Regions from separate parts of the Homo sapiens genome. Here all the other regions are linked to region 1. The links come from fine-mapping of genetic effects on gene expression. A gene starts in region 1. Each other region holds a variant in brackets. All regions are shown on one strand. Distances are between the middles of the regions.

Region 1 (8,186 bases):
GTGGTGTGATCTCAGCTCACTGCAACCTCCGCCTCCTGGGTTCAAGCAATTCTCCTGCCTCAGCCTCCTGAGTAGCTGGGATTACAGGCATGCACCACCACGCCTGGCTAATTTTTGTATTTTTTTAGTAGAGATGGGGTTTCACCATGTTGGCCAGGCTGGTCTCCAACTCCTGATCTCAGATGACCCGCCCGCCTCGGCCTCCCAAAGTGCTAGGATTATAGGCATGAGCCACTGCGCCCAGCCTGTACCAGTTATCTTAAACCTGTCCCACCATTGCATGTTGGGGTGTGGGAGACATAGGCATTCAAATGAACTATACTTGAGGATCTGCACTTAAAACACTACACCAAAGTGCTTCATCCACACCTGGTCCCAATTTAGATGACAGGACTCCAGACTTTGAACTGATAATATAATGGGTTGAGACTTTTGGGGACCTTGGGAAGAAGTGAGTGTATTTTACATTTGGGAGATACGTGAATCATTGGTGGCCAAAGGGCAGACTGTGACAGCCAACCTCCAAGATGGCCCCAAAGATTCCCATCTCTTGGTTTTCAAGCCCTTGTGCAGTTTCTGCCCACACTGAATAGAGCTAATCTCTAACCAATAAGCTATGTACGAAATGATGGCGTGTGACTTCTGAACTTAGGTTATAAAAGACATTGCATCTTCCATCTTGCCCTCTCTTGGATCACTTGCTTTGTGAGAATTCAACTGCCCTGTCTTGAAGACATTCCAGCAGCCCTATAGAAAGTGGTGAGGCCTTTTGCCAACAGCCATGTGAATGAACCATCTTGGAAGCAAATTCTATGCTTGTAGGTAAGCCTTCAAGTGACGATAGCACAGCCAACATCTTTACCAAAATCTCTTGAAAGACCCTAAGTCAGAACCACTCAGCTAAGTCACTCCCAGAGTCCTTGCTCACAGAAACTATGTAAGATAATAAATGTTTATTGTTTTAAGCTGCTACATTTTGATGTCATTTTCTATGTAGCAATAGGTTAATATAACAAGGGTGCTATTTGTGGACACTCCCAAAGATACTAATTCCTGGGGAATCAGATGGTTCGGATTTCTCTGCAGAGGGGTACAGAGATCTGCCTCATTGAGTCTGCCACACCTTGTCACCAGAAATTTATGGAGTCCCTTTTTAATAGTTTAATCTGGCCAGGTGTGGTGGTTCATACCTGTAATCCCAGAACTTTGAGAGGTCGAGGCTGGTGGATCACTTGAGTCTAGGAGTTCGAGAGCAACCTGGGCAACATGGCAAAACCCCATCTCTACTAAAAATACTAAAGGTAGCCGGGCATGGTGGCACACACCTGTAATCCTAGCTACTTGGGAGGCTGAGGCAGGAGAATCGCTTGAACCCGGGACGCAGAGGTTGCAGTGAGCCAAGATCGTGCCAACGCACTCCAGCCTGGGCAAAAGAGCAAGACTCCATCTTAAAAAAAAAAAGTTTAATCTGTCTGCCTCTAAGACCCTTTCTCCACAGAGTGCTCAAGAAGAATTGTAAAGTGTCAGATACTGAACTGCACAGTATTATATTTTAACTTTCTGTCAGATAACATTAAGAAGAAACAGTAATAACAATAATGATGACATGACTCCCCCTCCCCTCATCAAATACCCTGGATACAACAATGTCCTTTTAAGATATTAAAAAGGCCAGGCCTGTGGCTCACACCTATAATCCCAGCACTTTGGGAGCCTGAGGTGGGAGGATCACTTGAGTCCAGGAGTTCAAGACCAGTCTGGGCAACATAGTGAGACCCCGTCTCTACAAAAAATACCAAAACAAGTAGTGGGGCTTAGTGGCTCACGCCTGTGGTCCTAGCTACTTGGGAGGCACTTGGGAGGACTGCTTGAGCCCAAGAGGCTGAGGCTGCAGTGAACTGTGATTGAACCACTGCACTCCTGCCTGGGCAACAGAGAGAGACCCTGTCACCAAAAAAAAAAATAAATAAAAAAAATAAAAATTATTTTCATTGAATAAAAGACTTTCTAAATGTGAGAACGTTATGTTTGTAAAGGCTAAGTTGTTTCCTTTTAAGCCTGGGGGAGGACAGGAGTAGAAATAACCAAGCAAGGCACACTTCTCATTAGGTATATTAACGTTGATGTTTGAGTTGACATTTGTTGAATTTTTTTTTTCAGAATGGTGCTTCAATTCATGTTTCAAAAGCAGACACAGAAATAATTTCCAGAGAAATGAGCTGGGGGAAAACAGAAATGTGTATGGAATTGGAACAAAATAAACCTGATTTTTTTCAACATTGTATAGAATTGTTCTGAGGTTAAAAAGAAAGGTTTCTAAAAAATAAATATCTAACAAAAGCTGCACAAAGATTAGGCATACATTATCCATGGAGACATTAAAAACTATTAAAAAGGTTTTTTTACCCCACCTCATCCCCTGGTATGTTTGAGGAAAGCATCTGGAAATTCTAACTCAAAATCATCTAAGGGAATCAATGTAAAACAGACACCATTCCATCCCCTTTCATCCTTCTTAATACACCTCAGCCTCTCCCTTGACTAGATAAAAACGTAATTTTCCCTCTCCCAAATACAGTGCAAAACAAAAACTCTTCTGTGAATGGAGAGACATGGATATGGGGTAGAGGTGGAGACTTGCCTACATTACCAGCAGCCAGCCGAAAATGCCCTGTGTGTGTAAAATATGTTCCTTCAAAGGGGCATTGTGAGCACTAAATATAATTTGTGCCAAAAATAATAATGAAAGCTTAGTGAATACTCTACAGTGCAGGCATCGTTACATTTAATCCACAAAACTACCCCATGAGGTAGATATTTACCGTTCTTTTCACTTAACATCTTTTTTAAAAAGCGGAAAACAGAATGATGAATTAACTTGTCCATGGTCATAAAACTGATAGGTAGTGGCACCAGGATTTGGGGACCATCGGGCAGAGGATCTTCCAAAACCGGCTTTTAAAGAGCCACAAAAAGATGTAGCCGGGTTCTTGGCACTACAGTACTGCTTTATAAACAACAGTTCCCTTCTTTTCTCTTAGAGCCCAGTGGGAATCTAGAGGGACACCTTACATAAAGGAAAATGACTGCAACCTGGACCTGTCACTCGACAAATACTGCCTCTCCCCACCTCACTTCACCTGACGTCTCTGCCCAACCGAAGGCAGCTCTCAGAAAACCGCACAGAGGTTACCACCCCAGAAATTCTGAGATCCTAGGAGGTAGCAATGCAAATAGACAAAGCACAGTATTGCTTTGGATCGAAAATATTTGTTTGCTCATCCTAACTCCAATTCCCCTAGCCTAGAACAAACATAGCCCTTCCGCACTCAGGAAATCCCAAGAGGTCAGGTTCAGTCTGGTAAACAACACTGTCCGGGCACCTTGCAGAACACTGGGGACTGTGACGGGCGGCGACAAATTGGCACAAGAGAGACTGAAATGCACAGGGACACCAGCCTAGTGGCCGTGAAAACTCAAGTTGACACTTCCAGGGAGGGAATGGGGGAGGTGGAGCCCAATTCCTGCTTCTGGAGAGAGTAAGAGACTTCCTCCATCCTCCTTCTCCCTCCTCCTCCTCCAAGGCACGCTGAGATTTGGAGCGGAGGAGCTGAGCCCCGCGGGAAAAGCAGAAAAGGGTCATTGCCACTTTAAATGACTCAGGAAGTAAAAGGAGGCCTCCTGACGGGGAAAGGGAAAGTGGAACCGGGGCGGCGCGGGGGCCGGCGGCTGCCGCGATCTCTCCCTGGTAGCGGGAGGCTGAGCGGGCGGCGCGACGCGGGGGCCGACGGGGGCGCCGGGTGGCCGCGCCGGAAGTGCCTTGCGCGGCAGAGGAAGCGCAGGGACAGAGCGGAGCAGGCCGAGCCGGCGGAAAGGGTCTTTGCTGCTGCGCCCGGGCAGGGGCTGCCGCGGCCCCAGGTCCCGCTTCGAGACGCGGCGCGGTCCAGGCGGGAGGCGACTCCCTAGGAAGGGACCCGGGGCGGGAGGAGGAAGTGAGGCCGCGCGGAAGGAAGGCGGCGAGCCCCGGGGCCCCGAGGCCTTGGCCGCGTCACAGCACCCACATGGCCTCTGGAGTGGGCGCGGCCTTCGAGGAACTGCCTCACGACGGCACGTGTGACGAGTGCGAGCCCGACGAGGCTCCGGGGGCCGAGGAAGTGTGCCGAGAATGCGGCTTCTGCTACTGCCGCCGCCATGCCGAGGCGCACAGGCAGAAGTTCCTCAGTCACCATCTGGCCGAATACGTCCACGGCTCCCAGGCCTGGACCCCGCCAGCTGACGGAGAGGGGGCGGGGAAGGAAGAAGCGGAGGTCAAGGTGGAGCAGGAGAGGGAGATAGAAAGCGAGGCAGGGGAAGAGAGTGAGTCGGAGGAAGAGAGCGAGTCAGAGGAAGAGAGCGAGACAGAGGAAGAGAGTGAGGATGAGAGCGATGAGGAGAGTGAAGAAGACAGCGAGGAAGAAATGGAGGATGAGCAAGAAAGCGAGGCCGAAGAAGACAACCAAGAAGAAGGGGAATCCGAGGCGGAGGGAGAAACTGAGGCAGAAAGTGAATTTGACCCAGAAATAGAAATGGAAGCAGAGAGAGTGGCCAAGAGGAAGTGTCCGGACCATGGGCTTGATTTGAGTACCTATTGCCAGGAAGATAGGCAGCTCATCTGTGTCCTGTGTCCAGTCATTGGGGCTCACCAGGGCCACCAACTCTCCACCCTAGACGAAGCCTTTGAAGAATTAAGAGTAAGTATTGGGCCTTCAGAGCATAAACCTAGGGGTCAGGACACCTGGGTTTCAACTCAGGTGGCCTGGCTGTGACCACATTCGCTTTCACTGTGTCCCTAAGAAGCTAGTCTTTCCAACTTTTTGGGAGCAGTTCTTATTCACCGTTTTTGGTTGAACTCTTTTGAGAATCTGATGAAAGTTCTGGACTCTGACCTGAGAAAATACACACAAAATCTAGTATACAATTTCTAGAAAATTGCAAGTTTCTGGTCTGTGGATCCCAGGTAAAGCATTTCTTGGGAGTTTTGACCCCACTTAGGCCAATTTCCACAGCATCACTATTGTTGAAACTGGTGCTTTGTGCTAGGGCTCTTGATAAGGCAATCTTTTTGCCTACTTGAAAACATGGGAAATAGGATTTTGCCACATGAATCCAAGCAAGTGATACGTCTGCATTGAAAAGACTAACAAAATAGTTTTAATAGTAACTTCATATGTGCCCCGAGTTCATTTTAGATTCTTCGTGTTTGAAACTTAGTAGAAAAGGAGGGTAAGAAGATGGAGGCCAAATTGGGGTGGGAGTGGAAGTTCCCATGTCCTCTGTCTGGATCTTTGTCTGTCGTGGACCTTACTGGTCCCCCAGAACAGTGGACACTTCGGAAATATTTGTTGAATGAATGAATTTGCAGACGATGCACCTTTTATTCATATTGTGGATGTTTACTATCATTGAGAGAAACTGCTGGTGTTAATCGGGGAGGGAGGGGGAAATTTTGAGTGGAGTGATCAGTTCATTAAGTAATCTGTATTAGTGAACATTGTCATATTATGATGACTTTTGCTTCCCTGAATAGGGAATAGCTGGCATTGGGATAACAAATACCTTGAGAGTGAAGATCCTCTGTATTAGGTTTTCCCTTTTTTAGTGCCTATTTATAATTGTAAAATGCACATTCAGAAAGTGTGTAAAAACTTACAGTCTAACAAATAATTATAAAACAAGTACTGAGGTAGTCTCCATCCAGATTAAGAAATAGAACATTACTAGCAATATTGAAGCCTTTTCCCCATACCTTTTCCAATTATAACCATCTCTCTTCTGCATAAGTAAGCATAATCTTGACTTCTGTGATCATTTCCTTGCTTACCTTTATGCTTTTACTCCATGTGTATGCATTCCTAAACTTATTTGAACTTGACACTATGGGTGTCATATTTTTATCATGCATTCTTCTGGGTTTTGCTTCATTTTCTCAACATTGTGTTTGTGAGAGTCATCCTATGAGTGACTGTAGTTTATTCACTTTCATTACTATTTCGAATTCCATTTTATGAATATGCCACAAGTTATCTATTCTGTCATAGATGGTCATTTGATTTGTTCCCAGGTTTGGGAGCGTCGGGCTGTTACAAACAATGTCAGTGTAAATATTCTTGGTCATGTCTCGGTGTACATTTAACATACATTTAAGTGGAATATAAACGCAGGAGTGAAATTGCTGTGTCAGAGGCTATGCATATCTTCAGTAATACTACATGTTGCCAACTATTTTCCAGAGTGGTTGTACCAGTTTGAATCACTATGAAGAGTATATGAGAGTTCCTGTTGCTCTGTATCTTCAAAACTTGCTATTACTGTATTTTTCATTTTTGTCAATCTTGTGGCTATGTAATGGTATTTTATTGTGGTTTTAATTTTCATTCCTCTGATTACTAATGACTTTGAGGATCTTTTATACTTCCTCTGTGAAGTACCTAGTCAGTTCTTTTGCCCATTTTTCTATTGAGTTGTCTTTTCTCATTATATGAGTTTTTATATATCTGTTTTTTTTTTTTTTTTTTTTTTTTTTGAGATAGAGTCTTGCTCTGTTGCCCAGGCTGGAGTACAGTGGCTAGATCTCAGCTCACTGGAACCTGCGCCTCCCAGGTTCAAACGATTCTCCTGCCTCAGCCATCTGAGTAGCTGGGATTACAGGCACATGCCACAATGCCTAGCTAATTTTTGTATTTTTTTTTTAGTAGAGATGTTTTTGCCATGTTGACCAGGCTGGTCTTGAACTCCTGACCTCAGGTGATCTGCCTGCCAAAGTGTTGGGATTATAGGTGTTAGCCACTGTGCCCAGCTATATATTTGTTTCTGATTTTTTTTGTTGTTCTTTCTATGTGGGTTGCAAATATCTTCTATGTGGTTTTTCTTTTTAAAGAAGTTGTGCCTTGAATAGAAGCTCTTCATTTTAATGTGGTAAAACTTATCAATACTTTTCCTTATGGTTAGTGCTTTTTGTGTCTTGTTCTACTTAGTATTGATTTTTGTGTAGTAGAAGTAGGGGCGCAATTTCATTTTTTCTCCATACAGATGGCCAATTGCTATTGCTGTATTTATTGAAAAGCCCTTCCTTTGTGCACTGATTTGCTGTCCCACTGTCATATATCAAGTGCCCATAATATGTGTGAATGTGTTTCTTGGTTCTTCTGTTCTCTACTGTTTATCTGTTAGTATATCCCTGTGTGAACAGCATGTTTTCTCAGTTATCCCTTTATAATATGTCTTAATATCTGGTAAAGCAGGTCCTTCCATCTTGTCCTACAAGAGTGTGTTGGCCAGTTTTGGCACTTTACATTTCTTAGAATCATAGTATTAAAAAGCCTGCAGGAGTGTATTTGGATATTAAATTTATAAGCCAATATAGGGAGAATTAATATCATTACAACATGAAGTCTTCTGATTCATTAATTTAGGTCTTTTTTATTGCTTCGCAGTTAAGTTTTATATTTTTTTCCTCAAAGATTTTTCACATCATTGTAAAATTTATTCCTAGATACTTCATAATTTTATAATATTGTAGAAAATATGAGCCAGGCACAGTGGCTCACACCTGTCAGCTATATGGAAGGCTGAGGTGGGAGGATTGCTTCAGTCTAGGAGTTTGAGGCTGCAGTGAGTTATGATCCTGCCATTTCCCTCCAGCCTGGTCGACACGGCAAGACCCTATCTCTAAAATAAAAATAAATGGTTTTAAGTTTTGTTTTCTAATTGAATATAGGAATATGATTAACTTTTATATATTGTTTTTTTGTGATCTATCTGCTGAATTATCTTACATATCCTAATAATTTATCTGTAGATTTATTCTACATACCTGATTGTATTATGTGTGAAGAGAGATACTTTTTGTTTGTTTCTTTTCAATCCTTATATCTGTTATTTGTTTTTTCTTGCCTTACTGCATTGGATAGCACCCCGAGTATTATGTTGAATGGATGTGGTTGGTGGGTATTCTGGCCTTGTTCCTAGTCTAGCAGTAATTGATAACATTGCACAAATAAGTGATATGTTCTATGGTTTTTGAAAATAGATATGTTTTATCAGTTTAAAAAAATTCTAGTCCTGGTTTGCTAAGTTTTTCTGAATTTTGATTGGTTATTTAATATCAAATGCTTTTTTTGCATCTTTTGGGATGATCATGTGATTTT
Region 2 (8,186 bases), 48 kb after region 1:
TCAGCCCAAAATCTCCTTAAGCTGATAAGCAACTTCAGCAAATTCTCAGGATACAAAATCAATGTACAAAAATCACACGCATTCTTATACACCAATAACAGACAAACAGAGAGCCAAATCATGAGTGAACTCCCATTCACAATTGCTTCAAAGAGAATACAATACCTAGGAATCCAACTTACAAGGGACGTGAAGGACCTCTTCAAGGAGAACTACAAACCACTGCTCAATGAAACAAAAGAGGATACGAAGAAATGGAAGAACATTCCATGCTCATGGGTAGGAAGAATCAATATCGTGAAAATGGCCATACTGCCCAAGGTAATTTATAGATTCAATGCCATCCCCATGAAGCTACCAATGACTTTCTTCACAGAATTGGAAAAAACTACTTTAAAGTTCATATGGAACCAAAAAAGAGCCCGCATCACCAAGTCAATTGTAAGCCAAAAGGAAAAGCTGGAGGTGTCATGCTACCTGACTTCAAACTATACTACAAGGCTACAGTAACCAAAACAGCATGGTACTGGTACCAAAACAGAGATATAGATCATTGGAACAGAAAAGAGCCCTCAGAAATAACGCCGCATATCTACAACTATCTGTTCTTTGACAAACCTGACAAAAACAAGAGATGGGGAAAGGATTCCCTATTTAATAAATGGTGCTGGGAAAACTGGCTAGCCATATGTAGAAAGCTGAAACTGGATCCCTTCCTTACACCTTATACAAAAATTAATTCAAGATGGATTAAAGACTTACATGTTAGACCTAAAACCATAAAAATCCTAGAAAACCCAGGCAATACCATTCAAGACACAGGCATGGGCAAGGACTTCACGTCTAAAACACCAAAAGCAATGGCAACAAAAGCCAAAATTGACAAATGGGATCTAATTAAACTAAAGAGCTTCTGCACAGCAAAAGAAACTACCATCAGAGTGAACAGGCAACCTACAAAATGGGAGAAAATTTTTGCAACCTACTCATCTGACAAAGGGCTAATATCCAGAATCTACAATGAACTCAAGCAAATTTACAAGAAAAATACAACCCCATCAAAAAGTGGGCAAAGGATATGAACAGACACTTCTCAAAAGAAGACATTCATGCAGCCAAAAGACACATGAAAAAATGCTCATCATCACTGGCCATCAGAGAAATGCAAATCAAAACCACAATGAGATACCATCTCACACCAGTTAGAATGGCGATCATTTAAAAAGTCAGGAAACAACAGGTGCTGGAGAGGATGTGGAGAAATAGGAACACTTTTACAGTGTTGGTGGGACTGTAAACTAGTTCAACCATTATGGAAGTCAGTGAGTGTGGCGATTCCTCAGGGATCTAGAACTAGAAATACCATTTGACCCAGCCATCCCATTACTGGGTATGTACCCAAAGGATTATAAATCATGCTGCTATAAAGACACATGCACATGTATGTTTATTGTGGCACTATTCACAATAGCAAAGACTTGGAACCAACCCAAATGTCCAACAATGATAGACTGGATTAAGAAAATGTGGCACATATACACCATGGAATACTATGCAGCCATAAAAATGAAGAGTTCATGTCCTTTGTAGGGACATGGATGAAATTGGAAATCATCATTCTCAGTAAACTATCGTAAGAACAAAAAACCAAACACTGCATATTCTCACTCACAGGTGGGAATTGAACAATGAGAACACATGGACGCAGGAAGGGGAACATCACACTCTGGGGACTGTTGTGGGGTGTGGGGAGGAGGGAGGGAGAGCATTAGGGGATATACCTAATGCTAAATGACTAGTTAATGGGTGCAGCACACCAGCATGGCACATGTATACAACTGTAACTAACCTGCACATTGTGCACATGTACCCTAAAACTTAAAATATAATAATAATAAAAAATAAATAAAAAATGAAAACACATTAAAATAAATAAATAAACATGCACTGATGTTGCCATGCCCCCCCCCCAAAAAAAAAGAACTTTACTGAGAGGAGGACCTCTACCCCAATCCCTTCCTTTACTCAGGTAAAACGTACCCCATTACTTATCCAAAGTCAGCCAATTGGTGCTGCAGTTTATTTCCTTTGGATGGGGATAGTAACTAAGCTGAAAGATTAGCAGATTTAATTTTTGGAGGCTCTCATTTGTAAATGCACTTCAGTGCATTGTTGTTTATTCAGAACATTCTACTGTAAGTTACCTTTAGTAAGATTTTGTCATTTTCTGTGAGACTTTGCTGCCTCCTGTGCCTAATGCATAAGCCAGAAGGAACTCAGGTTTTCAGAAGTTATGTATCCCATTTTTACATAAAATATTGGCTTTGCTCTCAGATTCCCTTGATTAACCTAGCCAATGATTTTTCCTACCTAAGTGGGCAAGAAAAATGAAACAAAGGGATGAAACAAAAAAATCCTTGCAAATCTTTAAGAGCTAAATTTTATACCCCTAAAATATTACCATTTGCTGTCAGTTTCTTTCTGACCCAGTCAGATGTAAGAGGCCTCTAACTGGATCCAAGCCAATTAATTACCAGACCAAATCCATTCCTGGACCCAGCCCAGTTTCCGTCATGACTTCCAAACCCAGTTTGGTTCAGAAATTTGCTCAAAGAAACTCGGAGAGCTCAAAATGCAAATCCGTGGGGCTCCAAAATCCAAGAGACAACTTACACTCCCCAGCTACTCTGAGAGATCAGAGGACACAAGTGGATCCTGTGGGCACCTTACTTGTTCACTCAGCACTCCTGGGGGTCGTTAGAAGCTATACTTCAGACCCCACTTCTGACACCATTTGTTTAAACAAAAACGTCAGCTGAATTAAATTTAAAGGAGTCTAATTGAAAAATGAACAATTTGTGAATCGGGCAGCCCCCAGAATCACAGCAGATTCAGAGAGACTCCAGGGATGCCTTGTGGTCAGAACAAATTTATAGACCAAAAAAAAGTAAAATGACATACAGAAATTGGAAGTGAGGTACAGAAACAGCTGGATTCATTACAGTTCAGCAGTTGCCTTATTTGCACACAGTTTGAACCCTCAGCAGTGTGTGACTGGATGAAATATGGCTGCTGGGATTGGCGAAGACTCAGTGATTGTTACAGGCGCATACTCCTAAATTAAGTTTTCAATCTTGTCTATTAAGTTAGGTTACAGTTCATCCACAAGGACTCAAATATAGAATTACAGAGTCCTTTTCAGGCCATATTTAGTTTGCTTTATATATATATA[G/T]AGAGAGAGCTTTGTATCCTACCTTTTTCACCTAAGGTTATCTCTTATAAATGGATACAATTTTATCATTTGAATCCTGTTCCATTGTTGAACCTCAATTTAGAAAACTGGGATTCTGAACAATAATTTTCCTGTCTACCCTTCAGCATTCTTAGTTGAGACAAACCCTTTTAACAAAGACAGATTATCAAGAGAAAAACAAGTTTATTAACATATATACCTCGTGTGTGCATGTGATACCTAAGGGAAGATAAGTAAATCCCAAAGAGGTAGCTTTGAGTTCAGGCATGAATACCATGGAAGGGAAGGCTAGTTATGGGGAGATGCCCAGGAAAAGCATAGTAAACAAAGGTAAAGTTTATTATGCAGATTTAAGTTGGTGCCTTCTCCATTTATAACATAAAAGAGTTTCTAGTGATTGGAAGTCATCCTTCTCTTCCTGGTATAGAGAGGGAGACAACCCTGCAAATGGAGATTTCCTTTACAGATGTACATTTCTCTTACAAAAGGGTAACTTCCCTTGTTTTCAGTACTTCTCCTGTATTTGCAGTTTCTCCAAATAATCAGCTCAAAACAATTCTTCTGCCAAAGAGGCGTATTTTGGGATGGAATATTCTGGCCTCCTACAGTCATATTTTGGGATAGCATATCTTGAACCCCATCAGTAGTTACTGACAGAAGTTATTCACAAAAGACCAAATATATGATTCTATCTATATGAAATGTTCAGAATAGGCAAATATATAGAGATAGAAAGAGACTCAATACTGTATGGGACTGAGGGAGGTGGAGGAATGTGGGGTGACTGCTAATAGCAATGGGGTTTCTTTTGGGGGTGATGAAAATGTTTTAAAACCAATGGTAATGATAGTTGCACAACTCTGGGAATATACTACAAACCACAAAATTGTATACTTTAAATGGGTAAATTGTAAAATATGTGAATTATATCTCAATAAAACTGTTGAAAGAGAACAAGATTACTGCCTGAATCAGTTTTTTCAACCATTCACTTGAAGTGTCAGCAGTGAATATTAATTTTCTTTTTCCTTTTCTCTTCCTGACAGGGATGAGGGTTAAAAACCTGATGTTGGCCTCTGACAGGAGGAGGCAGTATACTACAATTATTAAAAGTTCAGGAATTGCCCTATCAGCTCAATGCTATCTGACCTTGGGCAAATCTGTGCTTAATCTCTTCATTTCTCAGATTTTTTGTTTTTTTTTTTTTCAGTTCCAAAATAGGGAATAATAGTACATATTTCATAGGTTGTTGGGAAAATAAGTGAGATAATCCTTTTAAAGTGTTGAGTACATTAAGGAGACCCCCCATCTCTACTAAAAATTAAAAAAAAATTAGCCAGGCATAGAGGCACATGCCTATTGTCCCAGCTACTTGGGAGACTGAGGTGGGAGGATCTCTTGACCCCAGGAGATCGAGGCTGCAGTGAGCCATGGCTGTACCACTGCACTCCAGCCTGGGCAACATAGTGAGATCCTGTTTCAAAAAAAGTGCAGAGTACAGCCTCCTATAAATTGTGGCTGCTGTTAGCCTCCAGTCCGGAGAATAACCCTTACTTCCAGCAGAAGGGCAAGGGTACGTGAGGGCACCTTCCTCCCCACAAAGTTCCAGAAACCTTCCAAGCCTTGTAGAGAAAAATAAGCCACCTGTTTATAAATAATTCTATGCTTTGATCAATTAACACTTCCTAGGAATAATGACACCAATTGCATGTTTTAAAGGGCCATTGATACCTGTTTGAGTGATAATGACTTGCAAATAAATTGAGTTCAGTCTCCACTTTTGGGATCCCTTGGTGTGTGGTTTGTTGGCTCACTCACTCTGTGAGTGAACTTGCCTGGCTGCAGAGTAACTGGCAGTAGTTCAGCATAGGTCTGTTGCCTGTTCAAGTCAAAGCAAATGTATCTGCCTTGGGAGTGTGTAGTTGTGTGTCCATATATTCCCAATAGAAAGAAGAAATCAATGCATTGAAGCAAGTATGTTTATTGTTATGAAGCAGACTCCCTAGTTAGCAGAACTGCTTGGTGCCCAACTATAAGAAAAATAAAGAAGTTATTTTAGGAATAACTTTACTTAAAGTTATTTAAGAAACACATTAGGAAATATATTCCCACTTTAAAGTAAACGCTACTGAGATTCTTCACTCCCTACCTCCTCTTCTCCCTTCCCCTGCAGCTTTACCTTATCCTTCTCTTTCTTACTGGAGCCCCAGACCTCCTAATTGAACCACAGCACCAATAGATTATAGTCATTTAAAAACTAAGGTGGGCATGGTTTCCAAGCTGCCTGGTGGACTGGAGCATTGTTACAAAGCAGAGGGATTGAGCTTTAAATGGCTTAATAAAATTAACACTTTGTGATGTCTTCTTCCTCCTGCTCCAGCTCCTCTCTGCACTGACAGGAGACTTGATAGTATACTCTTTGCCAAAAGCTTGAAGGGCTGATTACACAGCGAACCTGGAGAGAGGAGTGAAGCTGTCAGGACTCCCCCATAGCAGCCACGCTTCAGGTTTCCAGTGCAGGATTGTATTTGACAGTTAATTTAGGAGCCGGGGTACCTAGATATAAAACTTTATTGTGATAATAGTGATAAAATCACCCAGACTTTTATTTAAGGGCCTGCTGCTCTCCTGTCCCCCTCCTTCCTCTTTCCCTGTTAGTTCAAGCTCTCATTCAGTTAAAGAAATAAAATCAGATTTGCTCAGGGAAAAAGGTGTTTTCTTTGATATTCTTAGACCAAACCTGCAGAATGCAACTCTCGGTCTACCTCAGATCTATATGTAGATGCTTATACATATATATAAATATAAAATTTGAGAACAGTGCCTCTCTCCTGATTGACTGCATTTAGCCAAAGGGCAGAATTTATCAGGTCTTTACACCTACGAAGAGACATTTCATTCAACCCAGTGATTCAGCTGATGTTCATCCCCTTGTTTAATGACTTTTGTTTACCTCTGCAGCAGGCAAAATAGATTCTACCATGTCTCCCTACTTCCTAACTCAGCCCATTTATTTAGACATTATGATCCCCTTTTATAAATGAAGAAACAAAGATTTAAGAGGTTAAGTGACTTGTTCACGAGGCTAAAGATGCTAGTAAGTTGCCTTTCTATGACTTCTATATAGAAGTTATTAACTTTTGCCTATAGAAGATGTATTGAGAATGGTATTCCAATGTAGTATTTGTTCAGACTTAAGGGTAAAAGTTTACATTGAATATGACATGCTTTTTTTTTTTTTTTGGTGAAAGAGCACAAATATTGGAGTCAGATGACATGAGTCCATATATTTCAGTTTTATCTATAAAGGAGGACTAATCATACTATATTTTTATTAATGAAGATCCTGAAAATGAAAACTTGTGAGGAGATAAGAAACAGTGGAAGATGATTTTGGGGACTTAAATGTATGTTAGCAACTGTAGTTAGTTTAAGAGCACTGTGGTTCTTGGGTAAGCAGGTTGTTAGCTCCTTAAGGGAGTAGAGTAGGGTTTCAGTCTACAAAGAAGAGAAAATACCATGAGAGGCAAGTTGTGAGATTGAGGAGCCAACTACGCCCATAGACTGACTTTGTGTAGGTACAGAGGAACAGAATGTGACCCATCCTTCCTGTGCTTTCTGTACTTTGCTTCTGTATCATTGAAGTAGACTGACCCTGAGATGTTGGGCAGTCAGATCTGATCAAATCAGAAAAGGCAGCCATTGCTCCTTGACACCTTGTGGCCATTTATTTGAAACTGAGGCAAGGAGCCTCAGTATTGATATCTTTACTTTTCAATGCCTAGGATGAGTAGGAAAGTCTTTTAGATGTTCCCTTGGGAAATTAGATCTAAACTCCCAAGGGCATAGGCTCCCTCTTTTCTTTAGGAAAGCTTATTGGGGACTCTTCTTCTGTGAGAGCTCAGTAGATACCATATGGGAGGCACACAATAAAAGTTCACAGTTACTATTATCTCTAATGAGCAGAATGGTTCTGCTGATGGTTCTGTGTGCCCGGAGAGCCCTAAGTGCTTTCCATGTATTATTTTGTGTTAAGTTTAGAAAAATATCTATGAGAATGTTATTATTACCCTCATTTTACAAAGAAACTTTTTATGGAGAAATTTTCACCTTTCTGAGCTTCAGAAGCATGGAGTTAGCAGAACCAGTCCTCAAACCCCTTTCTCTACTCTATCAAAGTCCATATGCTGTACCGTTGTGACCCTATGTAGGAAAGAAGACTCAGCAAACATGAGAGCTACGTCTCAGTGCCCTTTCCTGAGTATTTGTGGCAGTATGCAGTTGTTTTGGTGTTGTGTTTTAATAAAATACAAATAACTGTGGCTTTATAGGGAAACTGCTTGAGAGAACTGGAATGGAGATTGAGTCTTATTTTAAAATTGCTTTAATCTTCAGATAAAATAGGCTTTCTTTGTATATTCAAGTCTAACTTATTTTAAGTCAAGACTTAAAAATAGTATAAATTCTGTATAGTTGCCCCTCAAACTTTCAGTGTCACTTTCCACCTCCCACTTCTACACGATAGTTCCCGAAGCAGAAGTTGTCTTTCTAGTTTATGCATAGGCTAAGGTGTTAAGAAAGCAGGAAAACAAGATGGAATAGAAGCTCTCACCCTTATTCTTGGTTGTTACAAGTCCTGGGTGTCTCTGGGGACACATTCTTCTAGTTTCATATTCCTATAGCAGGGGCCACCCAGAATTTTTTTGTTTGCTCAGAAGTTTGTGATTGCTTTCTTTATTGCCACCCTGGGGTCAGGCAAAGAGAAGCAACTTAAGAGCAAGCATTAGTATTGAGTCATAGTGAACCCAGCATCCCCAGTGAACTGCTTTCTGTTGCATCCAATTCAGTGTCATGTCACTGGGTTACACATCAAGTTGTCATGGCAATAAAGTTATAGCAGCTGACAGTGTGAACAAGCAGCCCTGGGAGGAGA
Region 3 (8,186 bases), 150 kb after region 1:
ATAAAACTGACAAGAGAACAATGAGAGCTTGCTTTGGATGTAATACCAAAGGGGGAGAATATGACGCCAGTTCCAGCTCTGCCTTGATTCTGGTGAGAAGCTTTCATAAAAGACCCTGTGTTCCCTTTGGGACAGATGCCATTAAATACTGCTTCTTAATGACAGCCCACTGTCCAGCATTTCCAGCATGCACCCTTCATCCCATGATTGTATAACCAGCAGGAAAGGGGAGTGGAAACAGGGCAGAGTTTGGAATGGTGAAGATTATTGAGTTGGTTCTTTTGGCTCCTAGCATACACTTAACTTGCAGGACCTGTTTCTTGAAATGTTTCTGCCCTTAGTGGAAGTTCTAGAAATTTGCTGCCTAGGATATTTTCCCTTAAAGTCTTTCCCAGATGGATGCAAAAGAGCACAGGTTTTATATAGACATAGATAATCCCTTGTGAGATGAAAAATTTCTAGGTAATAGCTGGGAGCTGATGTTCTACAGGCCTTTTCCTTTTCTACCAGCTTGACCACTTCAGACTTTATCCAACTGAAACTAAACCTTGAGTTTTAAGGACACAGACCTTACTATGTGACCCTAGGATTTTACATCTCTTAGAGCTTCACTTTTTTCATCTGGAAAACGGGGGATAATAATAGCCCCTACATAATAGGAAGAATGGGTGAGTAACACGTAATTCAGTGCCCCGGTCCACAGTAAGCACTTGCTCAAGCTGGCTCTTGTTACTATTTTAAGGGCAGTGACCTATAGAAGAGGATGGGGAGAAACTAGGCAAGTTTGCTACGTTTGCTTTTCTGAGTGTGCTCATTCCTGCATTTTCAGGCTCTACCTTCTCCTTGCCCCAGTCCCTGTACCAACAGTGTTCTCTCCCAGGTCCAAGCCAGAGGGGCTGTAACTCTGAGCAGCTGAGGTACTAGCCATGCCTGAGGGACTTGACAACTATTTGACCACTGAAACATCACTAACATCTGGAATAACCTGGCCAGGGCAGTAATGACTGACCAGTCCCTTCAACTGTGTCCATCCCTCCCTCCCTTTCTTCCTGTTGTTTGTATTTCACTTCCTTTTAAAAACCAATTATTTATTGAGCACCTCTATGTGCCCAGCCCAGTGCTAGTGCTAGATATACATAGTTAATAAAGTGTTGCTATTCTTATATGCTGTAGTCATGGGTAGAGAGAAGAGTAAATCGTAAACAAATAAATTATGTAATGTGATAAGGCCTATGACAGACATAAGATAGAGAATCACCAGGGAGTCCTACTTAGTAGAGTACCTTCTCTGACGAGGTGGCATATGTCCCTATGGCATGAGTTGAAATCTTGGATTTTTTTTCCAAGTGCAGAGTGCCATTGAGAGTGCAGATGGTAGTAGCTTCTCCTTGTTTTTTCTCTCCTAACAGTAGATGGCTTAAGGCTTAGAGGAAATCATACACCTGATTTTTACCAGCAATTTATTTTGTCAGTTAAGTTTAAAAGAATTATGACTCTCACCTGCTCCTTTAAATAGCTGCTCACGTACTGTATACCAGGTACTGTGCATTTTATATGTATTCTCTTATTTAATCCTCTAGTAACTCAAGAAAGTAAGTTTTATCATCATTCCCCCTATGGCCAGATAAAGAAATCAGAATTTAGAGAAACGAAGTAACTTGCCTTTGGCCATATTGCTCAATCATGGTAGTTAAGACTTAATTCCAGGTATGTCTGACATAAAGTCTGTGCTATCAACCAGTAGACTAGGCTGCCTCCCTTCTTGTGATATCTTAACTCACCTGGTTCTCCTTTTCCTTTGTAGTGGTGCCAGTGAAGAAGAGGACACATGAAGGCTTGCTACCCCCAGTGGAAAATCATCCCCTCCCCTTGTGTGTATGTGACAGCGTGTATGTAACGGCTTCTGATTTCTGTGAAAGCTGCTCAGCAACAAACGTACTTCCACCAGATGTGTCCCCAGATCCACAGCAGGCACATATCTCTCCAAGGGATGACCAGTTTTATGCTTACTGTGTGCTTCTCATCCCCTGGTTGTGGTAGGTCAAGGAAAAGAGCCCCTTTGATCCACCAGGAGCAATTAAGAAAGGTCCTTCAGGTAATCCCTCAATGGCTGCTTTGAACTTACTCAGGAAAGCCAGCCCCCATAATATTGTATTACCAAACAGTATCGCTTTGTTAGGAAGGATCTGGAATAATCTTGAAGGGAAGTCAGAGTTTTCTCCCTGCCTATTAACAAAAACCCAATTTTGTTCATATTGAAGCATGAAATAAATGAGAGCAAGGTAGGGCCAAATTAACTCTTGTGGACAGTCCCTAAAAGTCCAGTTCTACATTTGTGAAAATTGTGGTGCCATGAATTAAGATGGATGACTGGAAAAAGGTGTTGGAGAAAGAGTTAAAGATGAGGAAGAGATATTTTTAGTATATGAAGTTATCCAGGACTTGATATTCATAATTCAGTGCTGTGGAAATGAAAAAAATGATTGAAGAGGTGGAACGGAAATGACCTTAGGGGGAAAAAAAAGGACCAAAGAAGTCTGATTAAAAGTTGAAATCAGTATTTCTGAATTCAAATTGCTTGAATTTCCAAAATAGTCAGTAAAGGATCTAATAGAACCAGAATTATTTGGGTGAATTCTGCAGGTTTTATGGGCTTGTCACAACGTGAAGGGCTGGAATGTATATTACCAAATGGGAATTTCCATTGTAGGTTTTTGCTAGTCCCACCCCCATTTTAGCCTAATTTGGCTTAAACGCAGTATGGGGAGAATTGTTCCCATTCCATGTGTTCTGAATTCAGCTCATCTCCCAGCATATAGATATATCCTCCTTTAACTCCGACCAGAACCCTTCTTCCTGTGGCACTCCCCACCCATAGACCTTCAGATCATCTCCCACACCCTGGATCTCACTCTCCTCTTAGTAACAGAGACACTCCTGAGGTTGGACTTCCTTGCTTTTCTCTACTTCCAAATCACAATTTCTTACAACCAAGCTTTGTGCTCCCGAGTAAGCAGGGATGTACTAGGGGAATGTAAAACTGCAAACTTAAAAACCTGCATCTTCTTGAAGCATCAGTTTTACTTACCAAATGGTTTAGAGTCATAAGATGACCTATTTTTATATAAAAGTTATATTATAGAATAAAATGTTCATACGCATAGACTGTTAAGATAAAAAAATAGGAATCTTGCAAGGTAATTCTTATTTGCAAGTGGGTTATGTGTTCACTCTCCTCTACCTTTATGGTATTTTGGTGTTCACTTACGAAGCATACAACTAGAACCATATCCAAGCAGACTCTGGGTTGCTGTTAACCCAGGGCCTAGACTTCTAGTGCCTCTGAGGCAGAACCAAAGGAGCCTGCACTGGGGGAAATCCCTTTTCCTGCCTGCCTGTCTGCCTGTGACCTGTGTACGTATTACAGGCTTTAGGACCAGCTGATTGTTATGCTTGCAGGATGGTTTTGAAACAGAAACAATACTTGTTTACTGTAGGAATCCTATTTATATTATTTTTCAGTCCTGTGAATGCTGTGAAAAGATTTATTCCTTTGAGGCCAGGAAGCTCCCAGGCATATATGCTTCTAGGTTAGGATTGTCCTGACTCACTAAAGATGCCAGGATATTGGGGCTGAGGGGAGTTTGAGGTGT[T/TAAAAA]AAAAAAAAAAAAAAAAAAGCATTTTTCTCTCAAACTGATGGCCAAGAAATGGCTAGGACAATTTTGGTGCTTTACCTATCTCTGCAAAGACTGGAGAATTTGGCATACCATTAATTACAACCACCAATCATATCCAACAAAAGTACCCTAAAAGAAGGACCAGTGGCCACTCTCGAAAAAATTTAAGTATCAGAAGATTAAAAAGATTTTAGGATTTGGAAGCTTGTATTGTCTTTCCCCAATAATCATTGTTTGATCTCCAAATAGTAGCCTTATATTAGCAATAGACAGATCATTGGTTCTCCATATCTGATCATATGTTACTACTTTGAATCAGTATTTGGGAAATTCAAGCATTTATGCAGTGGATATAAATGGAAATATAAAAATATTTGCCAACCTGTCTCAGTAACTTATCATATCTCTGTGATCCTCAAGGAAAGCACTTTTGCTTTTACTTAGAAAGCGTTTCAGATTTGCTTTATAGACTCCTGCTGTCTTCAGTACCTGATAAAACTTTAACCAGGGAAGCATTAAACACAGTGCAGCAGCTTTTGCCCAGGCTTCTAAGTTCCTGCCGGCAGCATTTATCAATGTAAGAACTAGGATGCTTCCTGCAGTGGCACTACCTTCCCCTAGAGCTGGAGCATGCTGCTTGGCCTTAAGCCCCAGCATGATGAGGCTTCCCTCCTGCCAGGTCAGTAAAAGTTAGAGAGCTCAGAATTGGGTCTTGCCTGGGTGCAGGTGGCAGGGTTTGCTGAAACCCCTAAAGAGAAGTCACCAAGGGAGGCAGGTAATGAATGTTTCCAGAATCAGTCGGATACTCATAGCAATTTCTGGCTATCTTTCAAATGTTGAATTTCTGGATGCTGAGAGGGACTTTGATTTGATATCATTAAATCCAGGACAGTCCCAAGAAGTGCTTGGAGTCTCGGCTCTGACAGCCCAAGAAGGGAAATAACTTGTATTAAGGAACAACTATGAGCCAGGCCCTGAGCTGTCTCTTAGATAATAAAACAGATGGGGAGTGGAAGAGTCATTTGCTTCAAGTTATACAGCTAGGAAATACTCAAGCCAAATCTTGAACGCAGCTCCCCCTAATTCTGTGGACAGGCACTTTGTACCACACACCATGGTCCACCTAAAAACAGAAGGATAAAAAGACTTCAGGTTTTCCCACTGTGTGCTGACCATCCCAATTTATGAATCTTCTTCAAAATGACATTTCACAGTTATAGTTAGGGCTCAGAAATGGCATTGAGGTAGCCTTATTTCTCCCCTTTAGCAGATGCTTTAAGTACACATTGCTGACTTGAGCCCACCCCCAGGAGTTAGGAGAACATTTCCTTTTTCATGCCATCTTCCATAAATAAGGTGTTTCTTGGCCTTCAAAGATATAGAACTTTGCAGCAGTAGTAAAAGTGAAGGGTGTTCTGCTCTCTACTCAACTTTATTTGAAAATGTCTGCAGCTTCACTCCTGTAGAAAAGGAAATCTTCATATTTTAGTAAACTTAGCCGCCAGTGTACTCTGTGAGGATGTGGCAATTCAAAGTCCAGTGAATCTGGACTCTCTTACTGATTCCTGGTTTTAGTGTGTGTGTCGGGGGAGTGTGTACCTATATATAAAGGACAAGTGTGATATGTGTGTATATGTATATACATACATACATGTCCGCACACACACACACAATATTTGAGAGCTAAGGAAAACTCAAAGCAGCCCCTTCATTATCTTGCGTACTACTTCAAAGATTTCTGTCAGCCCTAATTACAAGTGTCACCATATAGTTGGGGCTTAGGTACTTGCTTACAGGAAGAGCAATTCCCTAGCAAAGGTCATTAGCTCCTAAGGCACTGAGTCAAAGTGACAGCCCTGAAGGAAATTGCACTCCAGCCCTCCTCCAGGATGTCTAATAAGATGGGAAACTTGGATGCCCAGCCATTTTGGTGACCTGAGAGTCTAACTACTCCAGTTAGACCTAAGGGCACAAATGCAGAATTCATGACCTTGTAGTTGTGGCAGGGTCTAGGAAGTCCTCTCTCCCCAAGTAGAAAATATTCTCTTGCCATTCCTGAAATTCCACATTCATATAATGGCTGTGCAATACATGCTTCTCAATAAGAAAATTAACTGCACGTTTACTGTGTGCTGATCACATCAGATTTTTATGTTTAAAAAAATCTCATTATGGATTGAGTCCAGCCCAGCTCTAAGAGAAAAAGAAGGCCCATATGGGAGACTTCAGTCTCATTATTATTGCCTTTATCCAGCAGTGCTTATGAAGCCCCCTACCCTGTCCCATTCCAGAAACCATAAGACTCAGGCAGTTCTTGATTCTGGAGGCCTGCCTGGTAAGATAAGATAGTATAATTTGGAACTGAGAACATACCAGAAACAGCAGAACGAGGGCCAGAGCAGAAAAATGAAAATAAGTGGAGACACTTATGGATACATTGGTGCAAAAAAAGCCACGGAGCCCATACTGGGCTTGATATGACTTTGAGGGGACAGCAGATTAATACTTAATGAGGGTTAAACCTGACCAGTCTTTCTACAGTGACAGGCCACACTGCATGAATGGGGAGAACCAATGAATCCATTGTCCTCTGCCTATTTTCCTGTGCACAGTCACATTCCCTCCTTAGGAATCTTCCCCTTCCACCCTTTACATTAAACAAGGGAACACTGAATCTTTCAAGGGAATTACACGTTTGGGTTAATGTTTCAGTATATCATTTTCATACTGTAAATTATTTTGTAAGAGAGATTTACTGCTATCCCAGGATGTTCGGACTTGGTGCCCCTGTGCATTTGGAAATCAATAAACTATTACTGGAAATGCCATTTGTCTCTCAGAGTTGTGCACAAAGGACCCTGCAAGGTGTAAATATTTATGACGAGCTGCATACTTGACTGTGGTAATGCTGGAGATGATGGTGTTTTGGTTACTAGATGTGGGAGTCTAATTTACTCCTGACTTTTCCACAGTGCCTTAGGAGAGAGCTCTGGGAAGTGGCAAAAGAACAGACTTAAGATCATTATTATTTAGTGATAAGTTTTCTCCTCAAAGTAAAATGATCCAGGCCTAGATTACATTTTATGAGCAACTTAGATTATAACCTAAAGAATACTTGGTGCCAAATTATGTTTTCAAATAACATTAAAGTTTTAGAATTTGGATGAACTAGAAGGAAGGTAAAATTGTAATTTTTGCCATATTTTCTAGAAAAAAAAATGTCTTTTAGAGCAAATTACAGTTAGGCCAACAAAATCTTTGTTTTGTGAAACTTTAGAAATACATATTTGCATGTAATTGATGAAAACATAGAATGAGTTGTAAATGAAGCAATTCCAAGCTGGTTTGAAGGACCAGAGGTTGCATTGAAATCAGAAGTCATATACTCAGAGGCCTTCAGGAGCCAAATGTGAAGACTCAAGATGGTAGATACTGTGTGAATTAGAAAATACCAAGCCCTGCCTAAATGCATTAAAATTTAATGTTTAAAAATCCTAAAACCCACCAGCAGGTGTATCTGGAGGGACAGTTTGTGGACTCTCCTCTAAATTTTCTTTTAACACATTTATCTTCATCAGACCCTTTTAGTTAGCTAGGGACTGTGTGAGAACCTTGAGAAAATTGTCCAAGAGAGGGAGATAAGTCACTCAAGGTCACCCAACAAGCCAGGCTGGTAAAGCCCAGGACAGCAGACTCTCTGTCTCCGAGAGCAATCATTAGGCCCTACTTCCTCTTCCCCAGTTGCGGAGGACACTGCTGCCTGGTGGGGTGGCACTGCCTGCCACTGTAGCACTTAGGAGTCTTCAGTGTTTTAACAAACCACAATGTGTTTGGAGGTTTTCTTCCCTGCTTCCTGGTGCCAGTATCTCAACACCACATCCATTGCCCCAGCCCTTTCTTGTTTTATCTTTCCCTCTGAAAGCTACAACTCTATATTTTATTTTATTACTCTTTGTTTGGTCCAACATGGCCCCATTTCCTTTATACTCATAAAAAGGTAGAATTTCAGCTTGTCTGGAATATCTCCTGGCCTTCACAAGGCACCAGAGTTAGAGACACCCAACAGAAAGTCGTAATAAGAGAAGATGTCACAGAAATAGAAACAAAAGCAAAAGACTGCTTGAAGTCAGTAACAGACTGCACTAAGTGTCTGTGCTTGTTAACTATTGTAATCTCCAGGTTTAAATCATTCATTTATGTTAATAAGAGCTGTCACTTAGCTCTTTCTCTGGGCCAGGTACTCTCCTGTTGTTTTTCACATTATCATAATAGTAACAGCACCAATACTATCATTCCCCACTTTGTTGCTCAGGAATCAAATTTAGAGAATTAAGTACTGTGACCACGGTTACACCCTAATAAGCGGGAAGCCAGAATTTAAACCCAGGTCTAGCAGACTTCACAGCCTCTTTCCTTAATCTCTTCTCTCCTAGCTGCACTGATTCCATCTTGTATTGGTGAATAACAACACTGATCCCCCTACAACTACCCCCACACATGTACAGTATGGCCTT

Evidence for each region. PIP is the estimated chance that this variant, and not a neighbour inherited with it, causes the effect.
Region 2: its variant is fine-mapped to the expression of TRIM44 in whole blood (INTERVAL, PIP above 0.99).
Region 3: its variant is fine-mapped to the expression of TRIM44 in whole blood (INTERVAL, PIP above 0.99).

Annotation. Positions count from the first base shown.
Region 1 is chr11:35,659,051-35,667,236 of GRCh38, forward strand. It overlaps TRIM44 (tripartite motif containing 44), which reads left to right and starts at 3,725. Exons shown (of 5, transcript NM_017583.6): 1 at 3,725-4,730. The coding sequence starts at 4,062. RefSeq lists enhancers at 3,382-3,701, 3,913-4,413 and a silencer at 3,742-4,121.
Region 2 is chr11:35,707,022-35,715,207 of GRCh38, forward strand. The region is part of intron 2 of TRIM44 (tripartite motif containing 44); the gene reads left to right. Among named protein-coding and RNA genes, the nearest start is that of TRIM44, 48 kb to the left of the region's middle. The variant G/T (reference allele first, on the strand shown) is at 3,233.
Region 3 is chr11:35,804,554-35,812,739 of GRCh38, forward strand. TRIM44 (tripartite motif containing 44) reads left to right here. Exons shown (of 5, transcript NM_017583.6): 5 at 1,805-8,186. The coding sequence ends at 1,832. Among named protein-coding and RNA genes, the nearest start is that of LDLRAD3, 140 kb to the right of the region's middle. The variant T/TAAAAA (reference allele first, on the strand shown) is at 3,654.